Linked DNA regions of Homo sapiens. The protein of the gene in region 1 interacts with the protein of each later gene in a pairwise test. Each region holds a gene or a part of one and is shown in the gene's direction. Other genes may lie near its edges. The genes, in order: ARRDC2 and EPN2.

The links.
Region 2: the proteins of ARRDC2 (region 1) and EPN2 interact in binary tests that used the Homo sapiens proteins (3 or more experiments, as listed by UniProt).

What each region holds. Positions count from the first base shown.
Region 1 is NC_000019.10:17,999,894-18,015,628, forward strand, and holds ARRDC2 (arrestin domain-containing protein 2), read left to right. Parts: upstream 1-8,276; 5' UTR 8,277-8,417; coding exon 8,418-8,691; intron 8,692-8,817; coding exon 8,818-8,884; intron 8,885-9,077; coding exon 9,078-9,225; intron 9,226-9,698; coding exon 9,699-9,801; intron 9,802-9,889; coding exon 9,890-10,146; intron 10,147-10,302; coding exon 10,303-10,465; intron 10,466-10,678; coding exon 10,679-10,836; intron 10,837-13,019; coding exon 13,020-13,073; 3' UTR 13,074-14,209; downstream 14,210-15,735.
Region 2 is NC_000017.11:19,325,591-19,339,222, forward strand, and holds the end of EPN2 (epsin-2), read left to right. Parts: intron 1-3,120; coding exon 3,121-3,297; intron 3,298-3,970; coding exon 3,971-4,057; intron 4,058-6,262; coding exon 6,263-6,478; intron 6,479-8,365; coding exon 8,366-8,664; 3' UTR 8,665-11,125; downstream 11,126-13,632. UniProt on the Homo sapiens protein: Plays a role in the formation of clathrin-coated invaginations and endocytosis.

The sequences.
Region 1 (15,735 bases):
GGTCAGACCCGGGTTCGAGTCCTGACTCTGCCACTGCTGGGTGACTCTGAGCAGTGGCTGCCCCTCTGGGGCCTTGGTTGTTTCATCTGTAAAATGGGGTGACAGTCTATTTAACCAGAACTCCCTAAAAAGGGCCAGGCAACTGGTAGGTGCTCAATAAATGCTCCTTCCCGCCTGAGGGATCACACTGGAGTCTTTGGCAGGACTCATCCTTTCTACCCTGTTGTCTGGCTGGGGAAACTAAGGCCTGAGAAGGAAAGGGGCTGTCCTTCAGGGTGAGAACCCAGGGTTTGGTTAAGGAACATCCGTGGGTGTACCTTCTGTGCCAGTGGTAGCTCCCAGGTCTGATGGCAGAGGCACAGTAAACCCATAGTACTTAAAAAAAAAAAAAAAAAAACACCAAAGCCATAAAGTTATGAACAGGCCGGGCGTGGTGGCTCACGCCTGTAATCCCAGTACTTCGGGAGGCTGAGGTGGGAGGATCACCTGAGGTCAGGAGTTGGAGACCAGCCGGCCAACATGGTGAAACCCTATCTCTACTAAAAATACAAAAATTAGCTGGGCGTGGACGACTCCTGTCGTCCCAGGTACTCAGGAGACTGAGGCAGGAGAATTGCTAGAACCAGGGAGGTGGAGATTGCAGTGAGCCAGGATCACGCTACTGTGCCCCGGCCTGGGCGACAGAGCGAGACTCTGTCTTAAAAAAAGAGAGAGAGAAAGAGAAAAGTAAACAAGGCAAGAAAGAAAGAGAAAAAAAGAAAGAGAGGAAGGAGGGAAGGAAGGAAGGAAGGAAAGAAAGAAAAAACAGAGAAAAGTAAACAAGGCCAGAGGTGGCAAGGGGACTCTGAGGAAGTGGCATTTGGGCGTGGGCGGGATGGGTGGGAGAACGGATCTGGTAGCGGAACGGCCCAGTGCGGAGGCGAAGAGAGCTACTCGAGGTGGATTTTGTTTGAGGGACAGCCATGAAGTGACAATGACGGGGAGACTGAGGCGGTGCCGGGTTCTGGGCGGCGGGGGGGGCAGGGGTAGTGAGGGGCGAATGAGACCATAGGGCTGAGATCTGCGGCCGCCTCGGTGCCTCCCCAGCCACCTCCGCCCCTGCCTGCTTCTGATTCAACAGCGCCGACCCTACAAAAACAGGGCCCGCCCATCTCCGAGGATGGCAAAGTCAACAGTGCGGGCACGCGGGCGGCCAGTCCCCGGCGGCCCGCGTGCGTCACGGGGGCGGATGCAGAGGACCAGGAAGTTCGCCGACGACGCGCCCGCCCTGGGCCACCGGCGCCGGCCCAAGTTCGCCGGGGGGGCCCGGAGGAAGCTTGGGGGACGCGACGGGGGAACGCGGAAACCCCGGGGATCTGCAGGCGCGCCCGGGCCGTGTGCCTTCTCTCCGCGTGTCCAAACCGTGTCCCCAGCCGCGCGCCATGCGCTCTGGGGGCGTGCGCAGCTTCGCGCTGGAGCTGGCGCGGGGCCCGGGCGGCGCCTACCGCGGCGGGGAGCGGCTGTGCGGCCGGGTGCTGCTGGAGGCGGCGGCGCCGCTGCGGGTGCGAGCGCTCGAGGTGAAGGCGCGCGGCGGGGCGGCCACCCACTGGTTGGAGGGTCGCAGCGTGGGCGTCAACGCCGTATCCAGCGACTACGCGGCCGCGGAGACCTACCTGCGGCGTCGGCAGCTGCTGCTCCGAGGTGAGACACTCGTCGCGCCGCCCCCGCAGCAGCCGGGACCCCCTCGGCCGCGACCCTCTTCAGGGCCGGAAGCCTCTCAACTTAGAACCTATGCGGTCGGGTGATCCTTTTCAAGGAGGGGGAAACCCCCTTCCCGGGGTCCTGACCCTCCCACAGGTCAGGAGTTCAAGACTAGCCTGGGCGACATGGTGAAACCCCATGTCTCCAAAAACTACAAAAATTAGCCAGGCTTAGTGGCGCGCGCCTGGAGTCCCAGCTACAGGCTGAAGTGGGAAGATCGCTTGAGCCTGGGAGGTAGAGGTTGTAATGGGCTGAGATCGCACCACTGCACTCCAGCCTGGACACCCACCCCGCCCTGGTCAGGACCCCCACTAACCGGGAACGTCTACCCAGGGTCTGGGTGTTCCCTTCTCTGGAGCCAGACTCCCTCAACTTAGACTGTGCGGTGGGGAGACCCCTTTCAAAGCAGGGGGACCCTCCTATTAGAGTCCAGGAAACCCGCGGGAAGTAGAGTGGGAGATCTCCCTGGTGGACCCCAGTGTCCCCGTTGATCCCAGGCCTGGAGTCCCTGATTCTCAGAGAAGGCCCCCAACTCGTGTTACCCAGGGCCCCACCTCAGTTTACCCCACAGGGTCTGCAGCGCTGAGTTCTTCCCTGGGGTAGGGTTGGGGGTCTGGTGGTATTTCCCGGTGAGGAGGTGGAAATGCATCCCAGAGGGGAAGAGATGAAGTGGGGTCACATTCTCCTGGGAGTCTGGGTCTTGGGCAGGTCCCTACTCTTCCCCGAACCTCAGTCCTTCTCGCACCCCAAGCGCCCCTAGGCCACGCAGCTGGTCACCAGCGAGCCAGGGGTCACAGAAGGAGGCAGTCCATACCCTCACACCCTACTGTGTGGCTGCGGGAGGGCATCATCCTCTCTGGGCCGCCCTGGCTATTCCTCCGGGCCAAGCCAGACCTCACTATACCCGTCTGTAAAATGGGCCGGGAGGGAGGCAGCTCAGATTCTCGACAGCCCCACTTTTTTCCCAGCGCTGCGGGCAATAGAAGTTTTGGGCACACAAGAGCCACAGGTGCGGGGGACCCTTCCCTCCCCAGCGGTGGAAACAGAAGCAAGTGCGGTGGGGCAGGGCAGGAAGGGGCCCAGGAGGCACTTCCCTTCCCCGGCGACTCGGAGAACTCTTGGGACCGCTTTCACCCGAAGGCCGGCCCAGACACTCAACGGCGACTTCCTTAAAACACTGGAGAGGCAGCCGGGTGCGGTGGCTCACGCCTGTAATCCCAGCACTTTGGGAGGCTGAGGCGGGCAGATCACCTGAGGTCAGGAGTTCGAGACCAGCCTGGCCAACATGGTGAAACTTTGTCTCCACTAAAAATACAAAAATTAGCTGGGCGTGCTGGTGGGCGCCTGAAATCCCAGCAACTCGGGAGGCTGAGGCAGAATTGCTTGAACCCGGCAGGCGGAGATTGCAGTGAGCTGAGATGGCACCACTACACTCCAGCCTGGGCAACAGAGCGAAACTCCGTCTCAAAAACAAAAACAAAAACAAATAAACAAAAAACACTGGAGAGGCGAGCCTGGTGGGTCCACCTGTGGTCCCAGCTATCACAGAGGCTGAAGCGGAAGGATTGCTTGAGCTAAGTTAGAGGCCAGCCTGGGCAACATAATGAGACCTCCCACCCTCCACTCCGTTTTTGTGTTTGTTTTTGTTTTTGAGACAGGGTCTTACTCTGTTACTCAGGCTGGAGTGCAGTGGCACGATCTCGGCTCACTGCAACCTCTGCCTCCCATGTTCAAGTGATTCTGCAACCTCAGACTCCTGAGTAGCTGGGACTACAGGTGCCCGCCACCACACCCGGCTAACTTTTTGTTTTGTTTTGTTTTGTTTTGTTTTGTTTTTCTGAGACAGAGTCTCACTCTGTCACCCAGGCTGGAGTGCAGTGGCGCCGGCGCAATCTTGGCTCACTGCAACCTCTGCCTCCCAGGTTCCAGTGATTCTCCTGCCTCAGCCTCCCGAGTAGCTGGGATTATAGGTGCCCGCCAACACGCTGGCTAATTTTTGTTTGTTTGTTTGTTTGTTTGTTTGGGGGACGGAGTCTCCCTCTGCTGCCCAGGCTGGAGTGCAGTGGCACCATCTCGGCTCACTGCAAGCTCTGCCTCCCGGGTTCACGCCATTCTCCTGCCTCAGCCTCCCGAGCAGCTGGGACTACAGGCACCCGCCACCACGCCCGGCTAATTTTTTGTATTTTTAGTAGAGACGGGGTTTCACCATGTTAGCCAGAATGGTCTCGATCTCCTGACCTCGTGATCTGCCCGCCTCGGCCTCCCAAAGTGCTGGGATTACAGGCATGAGCCACAGTGCCCGGCCAATTTTTGTATTTTTAGTAGAGACGGGTTTCACCATGTTGGCCAGGCTGGTCACGAAATCCTGACCTCAGGTGATCCATCCACCTCGGCCTTCCAAAATGCTTGGCTTACAGGCATGAGCCACCATGCCCGGCCCCCATCTCTTTAAATACATAAAAATTGGCTGGGCGCAGTGGCTTATGCCTGTAATCCCAGTACTTTGGGAGGCTGAGGCAGGAGGATCACTTGAGGTCAGGAGTTCAAGACCAGCCTGGCCAACATGGTGAAGCCCTGTCTCTACTAAAAATACAAAAATTAGCCGGGCTAACTTTTTTTTTTTTTTTTTTTTAGGCGGAATTTCACTCTTGTTGCCCAGGCTGGAGTGCAATGGCATGATCTCGCCTCACTGCAACCTCCACCTCCCAGGTTCAAGTGTTTCTCCTGCCTCAGCCTCCCAAGTAGCTGGGATTACAGGCATGCGCCACCACACCCGGTAAATTTTGTATCTTTAGTAGAGACGGGGTGTCTCCATGTTGGTCAGGCTGGTCTCGAACTCCTGACCTCAGGTGATCCGCCTGCCTCGGCCTCCCAAAGTGCTGGGATTACAGGCGTGAGCCACCGCGCCCGGCCAAGGTGGGCTAATTTTTAAATTCTCCCAGCTACTCAGGGGGCTAAGGCAGGAGAATCGCTGGAACCCGGAAGGTGGAGGTTGCAGTGAGCCAAGATGGTGCCACTGCACTACAGCCTGGGTGTCAGAGCAGAGTGAGACCCTGTCTCAAAAAAAAAAAAAATTAAAATTTTGGCTGGGTGCAGTGGCTCACACCTGTAATCCCAGCACTTTGGGAGGCTGAGGCGGGCAGATCGCTTGAGCTCAAGAGTTCAAGACCAGCCTGGGCAACATGGTGAAACCCCATCTTTACAAAAAATACAAAAATTAGCGGGGCATGGTGGTACACACCTGTAATCCCGGCTACTCGGGAGGCTGAGGTGGAAGGGAGGCAGAGGTTGCAGTGAACCTAGATCGCGCCACTGCACTCCAGCCTGGGCAACAGAGTGAGATCCTGTCTCAAAAAAAAAAAGAAAAGCAAATTTAAAAAAAATTTTTTTTTTTTAATTGATCATTCTTGGGTGTTTCTTGCAGAGGGGGATTTGGCAGGGTCATAGGACAATAGTGGAGGGAAGGTCAGCAGATAAACAGGTGAACAAAGGTCTCTGGTTTTCCTAGGCAGAGTGTTTGTGTCCCTGGGTACTTGAGATTAGGGAGTGGTGATGACTCTTAACGAGCATGCTGCCTTCAAGCATCTGTTTAACAAAGCACATCTTGCACCACCCTTAATCCATTTAACCCTGAGTGGACACAGCACATGTTTCAGAGAGCACAGGGTTGGGGGTAGGGTCACCGATCAACAGGATCACAAAGCAGAAGAATTTTTCTTAGTACAGAACAAAATGAAAAGTCTCCCATGTCTACCTCTTTCTACACAGACACGGCAACCATCCGATTTCTCAATCTTTTCCCCACCTTTCCCCCCTTTCTATTCCACAAAACCGCCATTGTCATCATGGCCCGTTCTCAATGAGCTGTTGGGTACACCTCCCAGACGGGGTGGTGGCCGGGCAGAGGGGCTCCTCACTTCCCAGTAGGGGCGGCCGGGCAGAGGTGCCCCCTCACCTCCCGGACGGGGCGGCTGGCCGGGTGGGGGGCTGACCCCCCGACCTCCCTCCCGGACGGGGCGGCTGGCCGGGCAGGGGGCTGACCCCCCCACCTCCCTCCCGGATGGGGCGGCTGGCTGGGTGGGGGGCTGACCCCCCGCCTCCCTCCCAGACGGGGCGACTGGCTTGGCGGGGGCTGACCCCCCACCTCCCTCCTGGACGGGGTGGCTGCCGGGCGGAGAAGCTCCTCACTTCCCAGACGGGGTGGCAGCCGGGCGGAGGGGCTCCTCACTTCTCAGACGGGGCGGCTGCCGGGCGGAGGGGCTCCTCACTTCTCAGACGGGGCGGCCGGGCAGAGACGCTCCTCACCTCCCAGACGGGGTCGCGGCCGGGCCGAGGCTCTCCTCACATCCCAGACGGGGCGGCGGGGCAGAGGCGCTCCCCACATCTCAGACGATGGGCGGCCGGGCAGAGACGCTCCTCACTTCGTAGATGGGATGGCGGCCGGGAAGAGGCGCTCCTCACTTCCTAGGTGGGATGGCGGCCGGGCAGAGACGCTCCTCACTTTCCAGACTGGGCAGCCAGGCAGAGGGGCTCCTCACATCCCAGACGATGGGCGGTCAGGCAGAGACGCTCCTCACTTCCCAGACGGGGTGGCGGCCGGGCAGAGGCTGCAATCTCGGCACTTTGGGAGGCCAAGGCAGGCGGCTGGGAGGTGGAGGTTGTAGCGAGCCGAGATCACGCCACTGCACTCCAGCCTGGGCACCATTGAGCACTGAGTTAACGAGACTCTGTCTGCAATCCCGGCACCTCGGGAGGCTGAGGCTGGTGGATCACTCGAGGTTAGGAGCTGGAGACCAGCCGGGCCAACACAGCGAAACCCCTTCTCCACCAAAAAAACCAGTCAGGCGTGGCGGCGCGCGCCTGCAATCGCAGGCACTCGGCAGGCTGAGACAGGAGAATCAGGCAGGGAGGTTGCAGTGAGCCGAGATGGCAGCAGCACAGTCCAGCTTCTGCTCGGCATGAGAGGGAGACCGTGGAAAGAGAGGGAGAGGGAGACCAAGGGGAGAGGGAGAGGGAGAGGGAGCTTAAAAATTGTTAAATTGTTATACATTTAAGGAAAAAACAGTGACACTGGAGGGGCGAGGCCAGTGGAGGTGCTGTGTGACCTCGGGCAGAGCCCCACCCATCTCTGGGCCTTTGGGGTCCGTCTGCGAAATGAATTGAGGGAGGCGCTGGCTCAGTAGTCCCTTCAGGGTTACCTAATCCCGCTTCTCCTCCCGGACTTAACGGCCTACTGTCTCCCCTCTAGTATCCATTGAAACCTGGCCTAAGGTCCCAGACCTTCCTTTCAACTCCAAAGACCCATCCTCCCAGGCAGCCTTCCAGGCTGATCACTGTGCCTCCAACTCCGTCGTTCCTGTTCCGATCCCCATCACGGGCTGAGGGTGACCGTGTTTGTTTATGACCGCCCCCTCCACCCACACACCTCACTGAGGTGGTGGAAGTCTCCTGAGCCAGGCTCAGAGGCGGACAGTCACGGCAGGGGATGGGTTCAGCGGCAGCGCATTACGCTGCCACGAGAGGGCGCCAGCGTCCCGCAGACGACGCAGAGGCAACTCCCGCTGGAGAAACTCCATGCGACTTTTCTTTGGGGAAACTGAAGCCCAGAGAGAGGTCACGCCGTCCCGTGGCCACACCGCAGCTGTGGACCTGGGGGTGCCCGAGCGTCCCCTGCATTCAGCTCTGTGGCGGGACGGGGGCTGAGGATGACTGGAGCAGGCACAAGGGCTGCGGGGAAGGTAGGGTTTGCCAGAGGCTGAAAATTGGGAAGGGAACATCATTTCGTAGGTACCGCTCCTGGGCGAATGCGCCGAGGCGCGACCGAGTGACGGTATGTCAAGAGCAGGTTGATGACCCGGGAGCGAGGCTCTTGGAGGAGTCCAGCTGGGGCTGCACGATGATCCATGCACAACCTTCTGAGGTCAGGACTGATTTTTACTTTCTCCCGGCTCTACAGAGGTGGAAACTGAGGCTCCAAGAGGTTGTCATTTGCCCAGAGCCACCAGCTAAGCGGGACTTGAATCAGGAAAGGGGTGCAGCAGGCACCAGTGTGGAGGGCGGTCCCACCCACCTCCTCCACTTCTCCCTTTGCATAGCGGGGGAAACAGGCCTGGAACAGTCATAGGCTCTCTGGCCCTCAACTGGGGCGAGAGTCCCCCGCCCCAAATCGGGCTGGACATGCCTCGAGTCACGTCAACGAGGGGCGGCTGGTGAGTGATTAAGCCGAGAGGCTGAAGGCTCTGCTAGGTGACCTCAGGCCTGGGCCCTGCCTCTGCACCTCTTTTTTTCCTCTTTACCCCCGGGGTCCGCGAGAGACCAGCTCTGGCAGCCTAAGGGCTTCAGTTTCTCCCCGGGGTCCGCGAGGGAAGGGGGCAGCCGGCGGTGAGCAGGGGCGTTTGTTATTTTGCTCCACGCCTGGGCAGAGCCACGCCCCTTGTCGCGCTATTGGTGGAGTCCCTTCCCGGGGCGGGGAAGAGACGGTGACCCCACCCCCCCCCGCCCTGCCGTATAAAAGCGGCGCCGACGCACGGCGCGGGGATTTTCTGCTCCGGTTGGTGAGCGCGCCTGCGCGTTGACGGCGATTTTGCGTTCTGAGGCTGCAGCGTCGGCATCTTGAGCTGCCGGTTCGCGAGTTCGAGGCCAGGTTCCGCCTGTCGTGGGTTCGCACCCCGGACGCGATGCTATTCGACAAGGTGAAAGCGTTCTCGGTGCAGTTGGACGGCGCGACCGCGGGCGTCGAGCCCGTGTTTAGCGGCGGCCAGGCCGTGGCGGGCCGGGTGCTGCTGGAGCTGTCAAGCGCCGCGCGTGTGGGTGCCCTGAGGCTGCGCGCGCGGGGCCGCGCCCACGTGCACTGGACCGAGTCGCGCAGCGCGGGCTCGAGCACGGCTTACACGCAGAGCTACAGTGAACGCGTGGAGGTCGTGAGCCACCGCGCCACGCTCCTGGCGCCAGGTACGGATGGAGGACCCCTGCTCCAACACCAGTTGTGTGCCTCCCACCACCTGGACGGCGGTACCTCCGTCAGCCCTGGGACCCCAGCGCAACCGCTCAGTCGCCTCCTTTTTCTCCTACCTGCAGATACCGGGGAGACCACGACGCTGCCTCCTGGGCGCCATGAGTTCCTGTTCAGCTTCCAGCTGCCCCCGTAAGTCCTCTGGGGTGCAGGGTTGCCCTAAGCCTGCAGCCCCTTCCAGATTGGTACCTCCAATACTGGATATCTGGGCACCTCTGAGCCCCAAGACTCTCCCCCTGGGAGGCCCCCGGAGTGTCTGTGTCTCCTTCTCCCTGCCTGCTTGTCTCTGTATCTTGTCCCCTGAAGTCCCGTCCCTCCACCCTAGGACCCTGGTGACATCCTTCGAGGGCAAACACGGTAGTGTCCGCTACTGTATCAAGGCCACCCTGCACCGGCCCTGGGTCCCAGCACGCCGGGCAAGGAAGGTGTTCACTGTCATCGAGCCTGTGGACATCAACACGCCAGCCCTGCTGGTGAGTGGCCACCCTTGGGGAGGTAGGTTGGGAGTATTGTAGGAAGGGGCCTGCCTGGCTGCTGGGCGACACCAACCAATAAGATGGAGGTCATAGGTGGGCCCTGGCAGGGAGGGAGGCAGGTGTGGGAATGCGTGTGGAATCCACTGGGATCTGCACCCATTTGCCGTGTGACTCTGGGCAAGTGTCTTGAAGCCCTCTCTGAGCCTCAGATGCCTCTTCTGTGAAATAGACCAGAGCTAGGGCTTACCAAGTGTGAATTACACACCAAACACTTGGCTTATACATTTCATTTCTGGCTTTATAAGATGGGTTGTGTTCCTGGCTCTATTTAACGGATAGTTCCTGGATTGTTAAAAAGAAACCAAGCCCTGCCCAAAGTCCTCCCTCAGCTGGGGGTGGTTTGGAAGCTCCACAGCGACTGTGGTTTGCACAAAGTGACTCATCCATGTCACTTTCCTCTACACCGACAGGCACCTCAAGCGGGGGCTCGGGAAAAGGTTGCCCGATCCTGGTACTGTAACCGTGGCCTAGTCTCCCTTTCGGCCAAGATCGACCGCAAGGGCTACACCCCAGGTAGCAGGCGGACCGGACTGGGTTGGGACGGGGGCTGGTGTTGGGGTTGCAGGAGGGGAAACTGAGGCCCCACTGCTCCTTGCTGCAGGAGAGGTCATCCCTGTCTTTGCCGAGATCGACAACGGCTCCACACGTCCTGTGCTGCCTCGGGCAGCCGTGGTGCAGACACAGACGTTCATGGCCCGAGGCGCCCGAAAGCAGAAACGGGCAGTGGTGGCCAGCCTCGCGGGCGAGCCGGTGGGCCCCGGGCAGCGGGCGCTGTGGCAGGGCCGGGCACTGCGGATCCCCCCAGTGGGTCCTTCCATCCTGCACTGCCGCGTTCTACACGTGGACTACGCACTCAAGGTAGGGCATCCTGCTGGCCCTGGGGGACAGTGCCTACATTCACCCTGTATTCCCTCAGACTGGGGGAAGCTGAGGCCTCAGTCTCCCCAGGCATAGGAGGGAGGTGGGGGTTGGGGAGGCTGCCTGGGCACCCTCCCTTATGGTTCCTTCCTCCAGGTCTGTGTGGATATCCCAGGAACGTCCAAGCTGCTGCTGGAGCTGCCACTGGTGATCGGCACCATTCCCTTGCACCCTTTTGGCAGCCGTTCCTCCAGCGTGGGCAGCCACGCCAGCTTCCTGCTGGACTGGAGGCTGGGGGCCTTGCCGGAGCGGCCTGAGGGTAAGCTCCCACCCTGCTTGCATGCAGAGGGTGGGTGGATACACGGAGAGGTGGATGCCGGGTCAACTCTCTCACCACGAGTCCCCCGGAATCCCAACCAAAGGACATACAGCCTGGCAGCCCCAGAGCTGGCACAAGCCAGCTCCTGGCCCCTGGTCCCTTGGAGCAGGGCTCTCTCCTGCCAACCTCACCCACCCTGTCTCTCGCTTCCAGCTCCTCCTGAGTACTCGGAGGTGGTAGCCGACACTGAGGAGGCAGCCTTGGGGCAGAGCCCCTTCCCGCTTCCGCAGGACCCCGACATGAGCCTTGAAGGCCCGTTCTTCGCCTACATCCAAGAGTTCCGCTACCGCCCGCCACCCCTGTACTCTGAGGTGAGCTCAGGGGTCTGAGAACCACCCATGCCTCTCTGGGCCCTGGGAGCCTTGATGGGGTGGCAGACATAGTAGATGGGTTTTTTTTGTTTTTTTGTTTTTTTAGACAGGGTCTTGCTCTGTCACCCAGGCTGGAGTGCAGTGGCATAATCATAGCTCACTGCAGCCTCGACCTCCCGGGCTCAAGCAATCCTTTCGCCTCAGCCTCTTGAGTAGCTGGGACTACAGGCACACGCCACCACATCCTGCTAATTTTTGTGTTTTGTTTTGTTTTGCTTTGCTTTTTGAGATGGAGTTTCAGTCTTGTCACCCAGGCTGGAGTGCAATGGTGCGATCTCAGCTCACTTCAACTTCCGCATCCCTGGTAGAGCGATTCTCCTGCCTCAGCCTTCCGAGTAGCTGGGATTACAGGTGTTAGCCACCACACGTGGCTAATTTTTGTATTTTTAGTAGAGACGGGGTTTCACCATGTTGGTCAGGCTGGTCTTGAACTCCTGACCTCAGGTGATGGCCTGCCTCGGCATCCCAAAGTGCTGGGATTATATGCGTGAGCTACCACGCCCGGCCAATTTTTGTATTTTTTGTAGAAATGTGGTCTCACTGTGTTGCCCAGGCTGGTCTTGAACTCCTGGGCTCAAATGATCCTCCCATCTTGGCCTCCCCAAAGTGCTGGGATTACAGGCGTCAGCCACTGTGCCCGGCTGGCAGAGGATTTTAATTGTTGACAGAATTTCGCTACATACAGTCGGCCCTCTGCGTTAGCTGGTTTGGAATCTGCAGATTCAACCAAACATGGGTCAGAGACATTTGAAAAATAAATACATACATGGATAATACAGATTAAAAATATGATAGGCTGGGTGCGGTGGCTCATGCCTGTAATCCCAGCACTTTGAGAGGCCAAGATGGGAGGACTGCTTGAGGCCAGAAGTATAAGACCAACCTGGGTAACATAGCAAGACCCCCATCTCTACTGCAAATAATACAAAATTACCCAGGCTTGGTGGAGCCCATCTATGATTGGGAGGCTGAGGCAGGAGGATCGCTTGAGCCCAGGAGTTTGAGGCTGCAGTGAGCAATGATTGTGCTACTACATACTCCAGTCTGGGAGACAAAACAAGACCTCATCTCAATACTACTACTAATAGTAATAATGCAGTATAACAGTGATTAAATAGCATTTATATTTTGTGTGTGTATATGTGTATATATATATATATATATTTTTTTTTTTTTTTTTTTTTTGAGATGGAGTCTTGCTGTGTCACCTAGGCTGGAGTGAAGTGGCACAATCTCGGCTCACTGCAATCTCCACCTCCCGGGTTCAAGCAATTCTCCCTGTCTTAGCCTCCCGAGTAGCTGGGATTACAGGCATCCACCACCATGCCCAGCTAATTTTTGTATTTTTTAGTAGAGACGGGGTTTTGCCATGTTGGCCAGGCTGGTCTAGAATTCCTGACCTCAGGTGATCTGCCTGCCTTGACCTCCCAGAATGCTGGGATTACAGGCGTGAGCCACCACACCTGGCCATAAAGTATTATAGGTAATCTAGAAGAGATTTAAAGTACACGGGAGGGCTGGATGCAGTGGCTCATGCCTGTAATCCCAGCACTTTGGGAGGCTGAGGTGGGCAGATCACTTGAGGTCAGGAGTTTGAGACCAGCCTGGCCAACATGGCGAAACCAGGTCTCTACCAAAAATACAAAAATTAGCTGGGTGTGGTGGCATCCACCTGTGATCCCAGCTACTCACGAGGCTGAGGCAGGAGAATCGCTTGAACCCAGGAGGTAGAGGTTGCAGTGAGCCGAGATTGCGCCACTGCATTCCAGCCTGGGTGACAAAGCGAGACTCTGTCTCGAAAAATAAAATGAAATAAAAATAAAGTACACAGGAGGATGGGCTTAGATTATCCGCAAATATTATGCCATTTTATATCAGGGACCTGAGCATCTGTGGATTTTGGTATCCACGGGGTTCCTGGAACCAATCCCCTGTGGATACCAAGGGACGGTATACACTCAGCTCCAAAACCCTCCTTGCACCCCAGTCTGCCCTAGACACCACCTCCTGATGGCCTCATCCCTGGTCAAGGGCGGGAGTTGGGAGATGGCTAGATGGGGAGCGGTATTTCTGAATTTCTGTTTCCAGTGTTCTCTGAGGCTTAATGGGAACATTTCTCTTAGGAGGATCCAAACCCACTCTTGGGGGACATGAGGCCGCGCTGCATGACTTGCTGAACGGCACAGGGACCCCTCGAGGAACAAGGTTGCACACCAGCTTTCAGCCACCATGACTGTGGGGAGTGGCTGGACCAAGGGCTGACCTCCCCGACTGCATCAAAGTTGGGGAACCAAGTCTCAGAGTGAGGCGGGGGCCTTTCGGATATCACATGGGACAGAGGAAGAGCCCGGCTGGAATCTGACTTACCTGGACCGCTGTCCTTGTGAGGCATTGAATGCCCAGTGCAGTATCCGAGAGACTGTTTAATAACCTGTCTTCCCAGCCAATTGGTGGTGCTGGAATCCCCTAGGAGCCTTCAGTCTGGGAGAAACAGAGCCAGACATAGACAGTTCCAGCATCACAGAACCAGAAGAAGAGACCTGCAACTGTGAGAGTCCAGACAGGAAGCAGAGAAGGCGTCCTTGCGGAAAGGGCATTTTAGCTGAGGCTTTGGAGTACGAATAGGAGCTCAGCAGGCAGACGAATGAGGAATAAAGGTCAGAGAAGGTCAGAGCTGAGTGACGTTTGGAATCCACCCCGTTTATTGTAGAACTGGGGGTTCAGAGGGCAGGTGCCTCAGAGTTGAGGCCACACAGTGAGGTCTGGTGGGTGAAAGGACCCAGGAACGAGGCGTTCAGGAAAGCAGGTTGTCAGAGCTATGTGGAGTCTGTGGGTGGCAGGGGCAGCCGCTCCAGCCTTTGAAGACTTTGAAAGCCAGAGATTCCTGGCGCAGGCTTGGACTTCCTGGGAGCTCCTCCAAGTACCCAGGGGCATCAGAGCTGCCTGGGTGTTACATGGCCCAGGGAACCCAGGTTCAGGGTAGGACAGGCAAGACCAGATACCCAATGTGCAAAGTGAAAACACTGGGCTCCCTGTTAAACGATGAAGAATTCAAGACAGTGACAGCATTACGTCACCCCTGGGGACAGAGGTCAGCCTAAGGTGACACACGGGGACTACTGTGCTTCCGGAGGCTCCCTGTGTCCTGGAGGAGAAAAGCATTAGAGGGGGCAGCTGGACAAGCTCCCAACTGCAGAGTCCCAGCCCTGGCTGGGGCAGGGCCCCGGCCTGGGACTCAGCATTTCTGATATGCCTTAAGAATTCATTCTGTTTTGTACAATTATTTTTTAAAAGTAAACGTGTGGAGAAAGAATCCGGGCTTCTTGGTTTATTTCCGCCCCCGATCTGGCTGCTGAGGGAACTGGGACTGCCATCCCTGGTCACTATCTTGGAGACTAAATTCCTGGCCAAGGAAGGCAAAGGGGCTCATGATTGAGAAGGGGAAACTGAGGCCCAGGACTGGGAGGGGGTTGGTCCAAGGACATATGAGGAGGCTGAGCTGGGGTGGGAGCTGAGCCCTGGGCCCCATACCTGCACCGCCTATCGGAGTCTCAGAGGCTGGCGGGGGCTGAACAGTGGAGGACAAGCAGAGAACTCTATCCTCAGAGAGTGGGGAGCAGGGGGCTGGGGCTGGGAGGAGCCGCCTGAGTACGGGAACATCCTGTCATCTGAGTCTAGGTTTGGTTTTTGTGGGTTTTTTTCTGTTTGTTTTTGTTTTTCAGAAGGAGTCTTGCTGTGTCGCTCAGGCATAGTGTAGAGTGTAGTGGTGTGATCTCAGCTCACTACAACCTCCACCTCCTGGGTTCAAGCGATTCTCCTGCCTCAGCCTCCAAGTAGCTGGGATTACAGGTGCCTGCCACCACACCCGGCTAATTTTTGAATTTTTAGTAGAGACGGGGTTTATTTTTTTTTTCTTTCTTTCTTTTTTTTTTAAGACAGAGTTTCGCTGTGTCACCCAGGCTGGAGTGCAATGGCTTGGTCTTGGCTCACTGCAACCTCCGCCTCCCGGGTTCAAATGATTCTCCTGTTTCAGCCTCGAAAGTAGCTGGAATTACAGGCATGTGCCACCACGCCTGGCTAATTTTTCTATTTTTTTAGTAGAGACAGGGTTTTACCATGTTGGCCAGGCTGGTCTCAAACTCCTGACCTCAGGTGATCTGCCTGCCTCCGCCTCCCAAAGTGCTGGGATTACAGGTGTGAGCCACCATGCCTAGCCCTGGATTTGTTTTTATTGAGGTGAAATTCACATATTGTAAAATTCACCACTTGAAAGTATTCAATTTAGTACACTTTACAATGTAGCATTTAATACTCATAATGTTTCTTTTGTTTGGTTTTGAGATGTTCTCACTCTGTTGCCCAGGCTGGAGTGCAATGGCCCGATCACAGCAGCCTCAAGAGATCCTGGGCTCAAGAGATCCACTTGCCTCAGCTCCTCGAGTGGTTGGGACCACAAGTGTGTACCACCACACCCAGCTAATTATTTTTTTGTAGAGACACGATCTCCCTTTGTTTCTCAGGTGGGTCTTAAATTCCTGGGCTCCAGCAGTCCTCCCGCCTCAGCCTCCCAAAGTACTCGGATTACAGATGTGAACCATCACAACCGACCTGGCTATTTACGATGTTATGCAACCATCACCACCATCTATTTCCAGAACATTTCTATCCCTGCCAAAGGAAACCCTGTCCCCACTAGTGATCAATCCCCATTCCCCTTCCCCCACCTCCAGCAACCACTTTCTGTCTCTGGATTTGCCTATTGTGAACATTTCATATCAATGGAATCATGCGGCCTTTTGTGTCTGGCTTTTATCACTCAGCATGTTTTCCGGGTTCATC
Region 2 (13,632 bases), on another chromosome or scaffold:
TCTAAAAGGAAAAAAGCCTATAGCTAACATTGAACTTAATGGTAAAATATTAAAAATTGATCCTGTAACATCAAGAGCAAGACAAGGATACCAACTACCAGCACTTCTATTTGATGATGTAACTGGTGATCCTAGCCAATGCAGTAAGACAAGAAAAAGACAAAGTATAAAGGACTAGAAAGAAGACACTAAATAGTCATCATTTGCAGGTGATGGGATTGTACATAGAACATGAAAAAATTTCTACAGATAAGTTATTAGAATTAAGAATTATTTGAATTATTATTAGAATCAATAATTGGAATGACTTCTAATTAACAGTTTGGCAAGATTGCTGGGTACAAAAGAGTATACAAAAGTTTTTCTGCATAACAATAAATAGATTTCTATGAAAAGTTTAAAAGATACTAGTTCCTAGAAATAATGCTTAGTTCCTAGGAATAAATCTTACAAAAGTTGTACAAATATCTGTGGGAGATAAAGGGTAAAAATTAAAAAGATTAAATTTGACCAAAAGATATTAAAACTTAAGCAAATGCAGAGATACCATGTGATCTTGGTTTGGAAAACTCACTATTGTAATGATAATGCTTCTCCCCAAATTGATCTTGGATGCAATGCAATTCTGGCCAAAATCCCAAAAATATTTAATTTTTGTTTCTTCACTTTTGTTTTTTAACTTGACAAGATGATTTTGAGATGACTACAGAAGAGCAGAGGGCCAAGAATAGCCAAAACAAGATTGTGATTTGCTGTATCAGATATCAAGAATTCTCATAACACTGTTTGTGAGGATAATTAAGAAGGTGCAAGTGGCCAGGCGTGGTGGCTCACGCCTGTAATCCCAGCACTTTGGGAGGCCAAGGCGGGCAGATCACAAGGTCAGGAGATCGAGACCATCCTGGCTAACACGGTGAAACCCCGTCTCTCCTAAAAAATACAAAAAATAAGCTGGGTGTGGTGGTGGGTGCCTGTAGTCCCAGCTACTCGGGAGGCTGAGGCAGGAGAATGGCATGAATCTGGGAGGTGGAGCTTGCAGTTAGCGATGATTGCGCCACTGCACTCCAGCCTGGGTGACAGAGCGAGACTCCGTCTCAAAAAAAAAAAAAAAAAAAAGTGCAAGGACGGAAATAGGTAAATGTAGAGAGCCCAGTAATAAGCCCACAAAGACTTGACTTACGACAGAGGAGGCCCTGCATACCATGCTGCGAGGAGTGGATGGACTCTAGTCCATGCTGCTGGGATGAGTCAAGAAGAAGGTAACCATAAGGGACGATCGGTAAAAGACTCAAATTGGCACCTTATAGGAGAGGAATCATGAGTGACCCATGAGTATATGAAAAGATGCACAGCCTCATTAAAGAACAGGGAAATGCACATCAAAACCACAATCAAATAACTTTTCAGCCCACCAGATTGGCACACATGGGAAAGTAAGCTAATACTAAGCATCAGAGAGGTTATGAGGCAACTCCTGGGGCGGCAAGACTGGCACCCACTGCTGGATGGAACATAAACTCGTGCCACCATGTGGAAATAGTTGTAGCATTCCTTGGTGAAGGCAGAGGTACCCATGACCCAGCAACTCGTGTATACATGTGAACAAGAACAAGCAGCAAAACCAAACGAGTATCCTTCAACAGAGGAATCATGACTTTTTTTTCATAGAATGGAACAAAACAAATTCCAGCTCCACCTCAACACAGATGACTCTCTCAAATAAAATGTGGAGTGAACAAAGCCAGCCACAAAGGAATGTGTACAGAATGCTTCTATTCATATAAAGTTCGGAAAATAGGGACTTGGCATGGTGGCTCACACCTGTATTCCTAGCACTTTGGGAGACTGAGGCAGGAGGATTGCTTGAGCCCAGGAGTTTGAGACCAGACTGGGCAACACGGTGAGACCCCATCTCGACGAAAATTAGAAAAAAAATTAGCCGGGCGTGGTGACATTCCTGTAGTCCCAGCTACTTGGGAGGCGGCGGTGGGAGGATCGCTTGAGCATGGGAGGTGGAGGCGTAGTGAGCTGTGATTGCACCACTGCACTCCAGTCTGGGTGACAGAGTGAGACCCTATCTGATAAATAAATGAATACACACACATATTTAGACACACATACATATACATAATATATATGTGTGTGTGTATTCAGAAAATAGGCACAACTAACTAAAGGTATCCCTACAAGATAAACTAGAAGGAGAAACAAGAGAAAGGCTAATAAACAGTTCATAATGGTTGGGGTAGGAATGTCATTGGGGAGGCACTTTCTGGTCCCTGAGAGGCGGCAGTGGTGTCTGAACACTTGCAGTGCTCCGCGAGAAGGAAGGAGATGTTGGTTTTATTTTATATGTACTCATGTATACACAAATCTGTGTCTATACATAAAGATGCACATCACAGCGTTGACACTTAACATTAGATGCACTCAGATGTTTTAGTTTTTTTGTGTGTGTTTTTTCTTTTTTTAAAAATTTTTTTCTCTGTTTTTTAAAGCCAGTTGTGACCCACTAAATTGATTTTGTCACTCCCTGTTTGAAAGTGTTTTATTGCTTAAGTTGGGTGGTAAGTATGTAGCTGTTTGTTTTATTCCTTTTTATACAGGACTCATCCATTTATATATGCTTCTGTCAGAAAGCAGAAACCACTCAAAGCACATGGGGAGAGGATGCCTCTGTGCCTCTACAGAGCCTGGGCCGAGGTGGGAGGGCTGCCTGGGGCCCCTTGTCTGAGGAGGGAGCCTGGATTCTGTGGGGAGATAGGTTTGTTTCAGATAGTCCATCGAAGTGGGGTTGAGCTCAGGAGCCCTTTGCAAGCCCCCTGTATGGTGGGGAGCTTGGAGAGAACCTCTTTCAGCTGCTTCCTCTGGTCATTACTAGAGGACAGGGAGAGGTTATCCTGGGACATCCTGGCCTAGCATGCTTCCTTACCAGGGTTGTTGGCCCTGGGCCCCAGCTGTGTCCCTCTTTGCTGGCGTGGGACAGTACCCTTTTGATGGCTGTCTCACCTGGCACAGGGCATAGACCCTGGTGTGGCTGGCAGTATCCTTTTCCCTTCTCACCCCAGCTGCCCAGACCCTCTGAAGGCATTTCTGAGCCCTGACCCTGCCTTCCAACAGGTACCAAGCCAGCTGCCTCCATTGACCCATGGGGGGTGCCCACTGGAGCCACCGTACAATCTGTCCCCAAGAACTCGGACCCCTGGGCAGCTTCACAGCAGCCTGCCTCCAGTGCTGGGAAAAGAGCTTCTGACGCGTGGGGCGCAGTCTCCACCACCAAGCCCGTGTCTGTCTCTGGTGAGCCCCTCACTCACCCACTTTCCTGCCTGGCCTCTGAGCGCCCACGGGCCCTGCAGCCGCTCCTGGCTCCTAGGCATCAGCCCTGTTGCTTTGCTTGCATTTGCTCCCCTCCTCCCCCTTAGCCTTTGTTCCTGATCCCCAGATCCCAGGTGCCCCAGTGTGAGAGTGAGTGAGTGCGAGTTCCCAGGCTTTGTGCGCTGGTACCTCCCTCCAAATTGAGGGGGCTTCCACCTGGGTGTTGAGAGAGAAGACTGCCCTGGGCCCACAGCCTGTGGGTCCTGTCCTCACCCCTGGGGGGCTGGGCAGGCTGGCCTCCAGGCACTCCTTCTGGTGACTTCCTACAGACCCTCATCCAAGCAACCAGACCCAGCTTGATGCACCTCCACCACTGCCAGCACCCCTTTGCCTTTTGGGGTGAGGGTGTTAGAAGCAGTAGCAGGTGGGCATCCCACACCCTGTCCTGGGAGGCCAGGCTCCCTGTCTCCCCTCCCAGCGTGCTGGTGACCCCAGGCTGTCTTGCCTCTTTGGCTCTCAGAATTCTCCTCCATGAGGTAGGGTAAGCGGGGAGAGGCCCCTGTTGCCAGCCCATCCTGAGGGTGTGCACTGGGCAGTGGAGTTGCCATGAAGTCCTGTGAGATGCCCCCAGTCATTGGCTTCTGTGTCCACCCAGGGTCCTTTGAGCTCTTCAGTAATCTGAATGGTACAATTAAAGATGACTTTTCTGAATTTGACAACCTTCGGACTTCAAAAAAAACAGGTATGTACAGGTGATGATGGTTTCCATAATCCTCCGTGCATTTGACCAGCTGAGTTATTGCAGAAATAATAATCAGCTTTCAAAACCCTTCAGCTTCCTGCATTTTCTTTGTATTTTGATCTTGGGAGCCTGAAGTTTCTAATTCTAAGAATTCATACATCAATAGTTAAAAATCACAAGGTAGAGTCCCCCAGGACTATGTCTCCAGGTTAGGATCCCCAAAGCTTCCTGCAGATTCCACAGCCCCGGCCTCCTCAGCTCAGAGTGGGCCTCACCTCTGGCCTGATCCAGCATTTCCATTCACCCTCCTCCTGCCAATTTCCACTCCTCAGAGGGCCTCCTTTTCCCAGACAACCACCTTTGGGCATCAGTGGGGCCAGCCTCTGCCCTGTGTTGTCACCTCCCAGGTGACCGCTCCAGCCCAGCAGACCCACAGTCCAGTCTCCAGACCTGTTTTCCTTCCCTGTGTGCCTCTGGGATGGAAGGATATCAGGTGGATGCAGTGGGCCAAGTGGCCAGTGGGCCAAGGTGGGCCTGGAGGGGTGGAGGGAGAAGGCCTGGGATGCATTCTTCACACACCCTGTTTGGACTGGGGTGTGACAGCCTCTGTCCATCTCTGGGCCACATCTCCCAGCCACACATGGCAACTTCTCTCTTTTTTTCTTTCCTGTCTTGGCTTCTGCTGCTTGCCTCCCCCAATTTCCCTACCACCTCTATCCCAGTCTCTTCTTTTTCTCCCTTCTCTTTTATCCCTCCCTACCAACTGTAGCCACAAGCCTGGCTAGGCCCTGGTGTGAGGTACAAGCAGCCTGGCACCGTTGACCCTGCTCGACCCCCTTGACCTCCTCTAACCCCTCTCAGTTCAAGAGCTCCCAGCTGAGAGACCAGAGGCAGCTTTGAGAATGTGCTGCTTTTTTGGGTCTTTCCTTTGCTGCATTAATAAGATTCCATGTGTCTTCTCTGTAGGCCAAAGTATAGCCTAACCTGTCCTTGACTCCTGCTCCGTGCCTCAGTGAGAAGGCAGCGTGGCCATTGTTACATGTCAGCTTTTGAAACATTTATCCCCTGCCGGTGCAGTGGCTCACACCTGCAATCCCAGCACTTTGAGAGGGCCAGCGTGGGAGGATTGCTTAAGCCCAGGAGTTTCAGACCAGCCTAGGCAACATAGTGAGACCCCCGTCTCTACAAAAAAATTAAAAAATTAGCCAGATGTGGTCGTGTGCACCTGCCTGTGGTCCCAGCTAGTCAAGAGGCTAAGGCGGGAGGATCCCTTGAGCCCAGGAGATTGAGACTGCAGTGAGCCTTGATCGATCGCCCAGGCTGGAGTGCACTGGTGTTATTGGTGTTTTGTTTTTTTGTTTTGTTTTGTTTTGAGTCTTTTTTGCTCAGCTCATATTGTCAGATAGAGTTGTCCTGCCCCTTGCCTCAACTTTTGTGGATTAACAGATTGAAAACATCTTCTCATGACTTTAAAACTTGTTAAAAAATACTTTGTTGCTATATAATCTCTCTTTATATGGCTCAGCAACAATTCAATAATTTGGGGGAGGACATTTTAGGTTGATTTCAGGTTTTGCTACTGTAAATGATGCTGTTGTGAAACTCTTTGTGCTTATAACCTTGTTCACATTTTACATTATTTGCTTAGACCAGATTCCTAGAAATGGGGTTACTAAGTGAGAGAATGACTGTTGTTAAGAATTCCTGTACCGTGAAGCATCCCGTCGTGGCAATCACATTCCTACCGGCCTGGCTCAGCACAGCCTGTGTTGCCTCTATGGGCTGAATTTTAAAAGACACAATTTGCTTTCTTTTTACTATCAAGAAGTTCATGTTTATTGTGGAAAATTTAGTAAATGGAAAATGTAAGAAAAAAAAAAAAAAGTAAATTGCCCATGCCTAGCTTCCAACCCAAAATGACATCTTGGTATTCTGGAGGAATGAGCTATACACACTCTTTTATAACCTGCTTTAGTATTTTGATAAAGCTTTCTTTGCTTATCATTAGGTATTCTTCTGTTCCTGCATGCTGGTGTTTCGTTATGTGGACACTTGATTTATCTAACCCAGCCCATGACTGGCTGTGTGTCGTCACGTGGCGCTGTCAGGCAGGCATGTCCCCAGGAGGCCATGTTTTGTGTTAAGTACACAGTCTTAGGCTCTCCCTGCCACACTCACCCTGCCATATGTGTCCTTGTCTTGTAGCCGAATCTGTGACCTCTCTGCCATCCCAAAACAATGGAACTACCAGCCCTGACCCCTTTGAGTCTCAACCCCTGACTGTCGCCTCAAGCAAGCCCAGCAGTGCCCGGAAAACACCTGAGTCCTTCCTGGGCCCCAACGCGGCCCTGGTGAACCTGGACTCACTGGTGACCAGGCCTGCCCCACCAGCCCAGTCCCTCAACCCTTTCCTGGCACCAGGTAGGCTCTCATCCCAGGCTTCATCCATTGCCTGCTGTGCCTGGGAATGGGTGTGCAGCAGGCCTCTTGGGGGCTCTTCCCACTGTGTGACGGGGAAGGGGTGGGACTAGCTGGAATCTCTAGATGATTACGTATGCCCTCGCCAGTGCTGCATGGGGTGGGGTGTGGAAGCCGTTGTCAGTTATGTGGGGAGTGTATGGGTAGGAAATAGCTCCTCTCCTCTCAGTTGAGACTACCAAGCAGAAACTGTCCCTGACTTGGTGCCCCCCCAGTTGTGAGACCCTCGAGGGAATGTCAGTTCTAAGACAGGTGGAGTAGGGTGGGCTGCTGGGGGTGAGGAAGAGCCAGGGTTTGGCGTGTAGCATTCCTCTCTCGGGAAAAATGTAACTTAGCCCTTGGGTACAAGCCTTCCTCCAGGTCCCTTGCTTCCACTCCTGGTGCCAGAGTCTGCCCCCTGCCCTCAGGGCTCAATGTTGGCTGCCGGCCAAGCCCCCAGCTGTTCAATTGGGTATCCAGGGCCATTATGGCCTGGTCCCACCCTCCTCTTCCCTTCCTGTGTGCATGAAACCCTTGTGACATCCAGCCCCTTGGCGCCCCTCAGCCTGTAGAGCCCTTCCTTAAGCCCAGGCTGTTACACACTCAGTTTCCCCTGCCTGGAATGTCCTCCCTCCTCTTCCCTAATGAAAGCATCTTCCTCATCCTTTGACACCTAGCTCAGATGACTCCCTTCTAGGAAGTCCACCCAGCCCCCTTCCTCACGGGGTTTCCCCAAAGCCTTGGGCTTCCCCCAGGGCAGGAATGTGTCACCCTCAGGTGTTCAGCCCCAGGCTGGCCCCACCATGTAGGGATCTGAGGATCTTGGGCCACCGTCCCTGACAGTACCTTGCAGAGGAGAATTACCACTGAACTTACAGAGGCTGAGGTTGGGGACCCTTGGGCAGAGGTGAGGTGTGTGGAGTTACTGGGTCCTGGCCAACCCTGAGGTCCTGAGATGGGTGAGGACATGGCTGCCCCCAGGGGAGGTGGTTCCCTGGGTGGAACTAGATTAGTTTCCAGCCTCCTCAGCCAGCCAGGAGTCTGTGTCTGCCCCAGGAGGCCTTATGCCTCTTCTGCCCAGAGAGCCCTTGAAGGCCCTGCAGGAGCTCCAGTGGTCATCTGTGTCTGTCAGCTCTTGGTGGGCACCTGGCTGGAGGCCTGAGGCAGCTTTGTTGGCTGCACACCAGTCATGGTTCCTGGGGGCTGCAGCCAAGATGGAGGAGGTTTGGGCAACTCTGCTGGACATACAGGGCCATTCTCCAGGCCACACAGGGTAGGGCCAGGCTGCATGGGAGAGTTGGTGCCAGCAGCGCACACACTTTTGCAAAGAAAAGGCTTTCTGGTATGAGGTAAATTCTGGAGACACTGGGAAAGACAAAGCTGCATCAACTTCTTGACTGCAGGATTTCTAGCCTTCGCGGTGTCATATGTGGATCCCTGGGTGCATTGTGGGCACTGCCACATGAGCCACACACTGCCAGTCCCATGTCCCTTTCAGCAAACAAAATGAGGGAGCAGTGGTAGCTGATGGCTGGTGAAGGTGTCCTGGGTGCCAGCACTGCAGAGGAGCCAGGGTGCCCCGAGATGGGTGTGTTCCTGGCATGGCCTTGTTCAGCTTTGTGACGCTGGACAAATCACTTGGCTTCTCACAGCCTCAATCTCCTCATCCTTAAAGTGCAGATTCATGCAGTCAGCAGATATTTGCTAGTGTCTGCCATGGACTCGGCCGGCACTGTCACGGGCTCTGAGGGCACAGCAGGGACCAGAACACCCGCATGCAGTCCCTGACCTGGGAGCTCAGAAAGCCACACCCTGACGGCTCAGCCTCTGCCCCTCCTTCTGTCTCCCCAGGTGCTCCCGCCACCTCGGCCCCTGTTAACCCTTTCCAGGTGAACCAGCCCCAGCCGCTGACACTGAACCAGCTTCGGGGGAGCCCAGTCCTGGGGACCAGCACATCCTTTGGGCCTGGCCCAGGAGTGGAGTCCATGGCTGTGGCCTCGATGACCTCCGCGGCCCCACAGCCAGCTCTGGGGGCCACTGGTTCCTCTCTGACACCACTGGGCCCTGCAATGATGAACATGGTGGGCAGTGTGGGTATACCCCCATCAGCAGCCCAGGCCACTGGCACAACCAACCCTTTCCTTCTCTAGTGCCTGGGCCTGGGACCCACCCAGAGCACCTGTGCTGGAGGATGCCGAGCAGGGACTCTCGTCTGTGGGACGGGATCCAAGAGTTTGGGGATTAGGGGTATTAGGGCTTTTCAGCTCCAGCTTCCTGATGAAAGGGCTGTCTTTACAGCCCCAACCCTCAGACCCTCGCCTTCCAAGGCAGGCCCCTCAGCCTGGCCTGCTCTCACCACCTCCTCCAAAGCACTGAGGTCCTGGCAGGGCTCCTCTGAGGCCTTGGACGAGGACGTGGAGTCATCAGTGTTGCCCTTGCCCCTAACCTCAGCCCGAGGGTCTCCAGGATGTTGCCTGGCCCAGGACTTGGGACAGTGGCCTTGTCTTTGTCCTCCCCACCCCCCAGCCCTAGGGACACCCCAGGCAGTCCTGGGTGTGGACACGATGAAGCACCGGCTCCATAAGACACCTTTTGGGGAAGTGGTTGTGCATATTTTATTTTTCTTTGACTCGTGTGAGTTCAAAGTAAACACCACCACCGTGGACAACTCTTGAATTAAATCCACTAGAGCGAGCTTTAAAACTAATCTGAGCATAACCCCCAACGTGGCTCTATGCTTGTGTACCTTTGCACATATTTTGTTTAGTACAGTTTCATATTTGAGTTTGCAGAATTATCTAATAGTCTTTTTTTGGCTAATATTTTTATAACGTGGTTCTTATTTAACTGTCTAGTTTTGATAGAATTTACCAGGTCTGGCTGAATGAAGATGTTGGCACGTGTCATTTTAGTGGTTTAAATCCTCTTATTTATGGTTTTAACTCTAAGAAAATTTTAAAAGGAAGAGATGTTTGGATGACAAAAAAATGCCTTATTGAAAAACTAAAGCAAATTCTTTATAGGAAGAAAATATGGGAATTTGATTACACATAGATGATGATGTTTATTTAAAAAAAAAACAACAGCAACAAAAAATCCTAGCCTCCAGTTGCCTTTTCCTTTCTTTAGCTCCTGTTTTTGGTGAATTACTAAACTGATTGACTTTCAGCCTTTTTGGCTAGATCCTGAGAGGCTATTTTTCTTACGAATATACCAACATCCTGAAAGTTAAAGAAAAAAATCTAATGTATGAATGTGACTCACCAATTTTTATCAACTAATTCCTTTTTTTTATTAAAGGCATGCAGGGATTAACAGGACTTCTGTTTACAATGGAAATCTGAAATGGAAGAAACATCTTTAACCTTGTGTGTCTGTGATCTCCTCTGTCTTAATCCACGCTCAGGCTAAAGATGGGGATAATGTGGAAATGGCAGTTGTCCCGAGGGCGTGGGGTGGGGGGTGCTTCTGTGCCCACGGGTCCCTGGGCAACAGTCCCTAGGCTAAGACAGGGGTGGGGGGCTAAGGGACCAGGGCTGGCCCTGATCCACCTACCTGCTAACTCCAGATATTATTTTTAAGTTGGAGACCTAAAAATAATTCTCTTGTATTTTGGAGATGAAGAAAAAAGTCATTCACCTGGGAGGGATTTTTAACAAACATGCACTAATATTACCTCCCTCTTCCAAACTCCTACTGTCCTCACCTCACCCACCACTGTAAAAGTATTACGTCGTGCATTAAAGACCAGAAAAGACTTGCTTTTACCCAGGGAGGGGACATTCCCCCAATCCTGTGTCTGGGCAGCTTGCCTGGTGGATGTTTCTGGCCCTTTTTCCACCATGGGAATTTCTCACCTCTAGCTCTAAGGGCAGCTGACCACCTGCCAGCCCCTCTCTGGTTCCAGAAGATTACCCTTCGCACCGGCACAGGAGAGATCTTAAATGGTCTCTGGGCTGCTGGGACATGCAGGCTCTGAGTGGGGACTGCACCCACTCATGCTGTTCCTGAGGCCGCCCTCTCCAGTCCCAGGAGCCGTGTCTAGAGTTCCTGACCAGCCACCTTCTGCCAGAACTGCAGGCCTGCGGCTGGGTCTTAGGCTCCCGCTGCCATTTGGGTAAGCCGGTGGCTGGTCTCGTCTGCCGGGGGAAGGGTGGGGAGGTGCAATGGGATGGGAGGCAGGATGCTTGCCCAGAAAGGTGCTTTCCTTCAGACGGTGCAGGGCCTGGGCCAGCCTTACAGGTCAGTAGACTAGACTCGACTACTTGGGGTCAGTGATTCTTTTGTAACGAGTCTTTCATGATGTGACTTTGAGGCCCCAACATGACAGCCACTGGGCCACCGGGACCCAAGAAGACAGCCCCCTGCCCCATCTTCTGGCACAGGCCATCCCGAGTGCATGTCCCTGTTGCCCACTGCACTGATCATGAAGCCACCGGCCACTGCCACGCATGTTGCACCTGTGCCATCGTGCTCCCTCCTGATGGGCACCGTGGTGGAGGAAGTCACCCAGCTGTTTCTCAGTCCCAGAGGCCGGTGGCTGGTTTTGAACTTGTGTTGACTGTTGATACTTATTTACTGTATAAATATAATTTATCATTTGTACCATGATGCGGTTTCTGGCTGTGTCCTTCTCCCACCCCATCTTCATCAGTCCTGTGCCACTGGAGAGGTGGGAGATGAGGGAGCCGATTCTTGTGGAGCTTGGTCTGCAGTTATTGAGGCCACCAGCCTGGTCCTAGTGCCCGCGTGAGCTGGGCATTTGGTTGCCCCTGAACCTCAGGGAAAGGGGGTGGGAGGCGTGCCTTTTGTGAGGTGCTGAGACTGGTGGCCTGCACGGGTGTGCTGGGGGAAGTGCTAGCCACTGCCCTTTACCCTTCTGTGTCCGCCCTCTTAATGCGGCCTTGTCACTGGTGGAGGCTGCTTTGGATGAGGTGGAAGTGACAGTGTGCCGGGTCCCCAGAGGCTTCCTGTGCTCTGCCTCCTCTTGTGTCCATGCTGCAGAAGAGCTGCTCTGGGAAGCCACTGCCTGTCAGCTGAGGCAACAGAGGGAGGGAGTGCGTGGAGCTGCCCAGCCAACTGCGTGTTCCTGAGAGGAAGGGCCTGTTGGAGCCACTGGTTCTTAGGTGGCTTGCTGTGCAACAGCTGACCGACAGAGGGCCTGTGCCTCAGAGCCACCAACCAGACGAGGGCAGCGGCGGGAGGACACGTGCATCTCCAGGCAGCAGAGGTGGAAGAGGTGCTCTGGTCACGGGAAGAGGCAAGGCCGAGGCAGAGGCGGCTGGGAGACCCTGATGGGAAGGGTTGGAGAGGCCTTGAGACGAGCCTGGAGGGAGGTCTGGGACTGCCCTGCAGCCCTCTGCTCTCTGTGCAAGTGCCTGGCTCCTGGTGTCCACCCAAGGATAAGCAGACAAGCTTGACTCAGAGCTAGGAGGCTAGGGACTGGTGGCAGGGGGTGCCCGTTCAGTGCAGGGGACAGGAGAGAAAGAAGGGTGTGTGGGATGCTCTTGGTTACGCTGCAGTAACACATCTCCAGGTCTCAGCGGCTTCCCGCGGAAGTTTCTCACAGAAGTCAGTGACTCAGGGACTCAAGCCGCTTTCATCTTGAAACACTGCTATCTTTGACAGACAGCCCTGAAGGTGGCTATGAAGGGAAAAATGGACAAGGGTCAAGCATAGATTTCTTACAGCCAGGCCTGGAATTGCCTCACTGCCACTCACACCAGTGCCAGAATTAGGCCCTCGGCCCCCATCCAGATGTGGGGTGGGTGGGGATGGGCAAGTGCAGGCTTCCTTAGTGGTGGAGGGTGGGAGGTGGGGAAATGGGCTTGGTTAACATTGCCAGTCTCTATCACAGCGGACTGTCTGGCTCCCAGAGAGTTATTTCAGTCTTCTTCTCAAACATAGACAGTAAGGTCCTGTGTCCTGGGCTCTGTGGAGTACAGAGCCTTCTCCAGCAAGGCAGACACAGCCTATAAACTAGAAAGACCTATGATCTGTGCCCTTCCCCCAACAATAACAACAAAGCAGGGCAGGGGTCAGTACCCACAGTCCAGCTCCATTTGGAGGAGCAGAGAATGGGAGACTGCCCCACAGTGCTGGAAGCTGCCGCACAGACTGAGGTCGCCTTGCGGTGAGGAGGGAAAGGACCTGATGGTGCCCTGCTCTGGGCTCTGCCCCCTGGTGGGGAGCTGGCCTTTTTTGTATTCCCTTGGCTGCAGCTCTTGGGCCAAGCTCAGCTTTCTCACCTGCTGCCTGTGGGTGGATGGTTCCAGGCCAGGACCTGTTTTGAGTGAGCCAGAGGCTTCAGTCCAGGCTCATGGACTTTGCACACTTCCATCAAAAATGTGGCAATCTTTGTACTTCTAATCAGTTCCATGTACAAATAACTGCATTATTTTGGTCAGAGTGTTACTTTGGTGGCCCCTGATGGACCTTGTCTCCCAGTGTGGTCTCCGTCACCTGATGGGCGTGGCCATATGACTAGATGGGGCCAGTGCCATGATGGCAGGAGGGGCTTGATAAATGCCTGCACATGGAGCTTGACCTCTTGGCATGTTCTGCTGGCAGCCCACATGTCGTACTATGAGAACTTCAAACACATGGAGAGGCCACATGGGGGAGAACGGAGGTGTTCTGTCAGTAGCCCCCATGAGCCCCAGACAACAGCCCACCATGTGAGTAATCATCTTGGTCAGCTCAGTGGAATAGCTCTAGCCAGAATCAAGTGTAGCATAGCCACCCAGCTGAGCCCAGTCCCCTGTAGGATCATGAGTGATAAATGATAGTGGTTTTAAGTGACAAAGTTTTGGGGTAATTTGTTACACAGCAATGGACAACTCAAGCACACACATAAAATTCTTTCCTAGACATAAGCTGCCTTATTTCCTTGCTGCCTTACCTCCATGCTTCTCTCAATTTAATGGTAGCTACCATGAGGCCATCTGGGATCATGATGGGAGAGCCACCCCCTTAATTCCGTATTTACCAAAAGACCAAGTTATTTTGTTCAGATGAGAAGTTTTATTATGCCTTTATTGCTGAAAGCAATTTTGAATCTTACCTTTTCTCATTAGAGTTTGAGAAAGTCTTTTGCAACCTTTTGATGCTAATTTTTT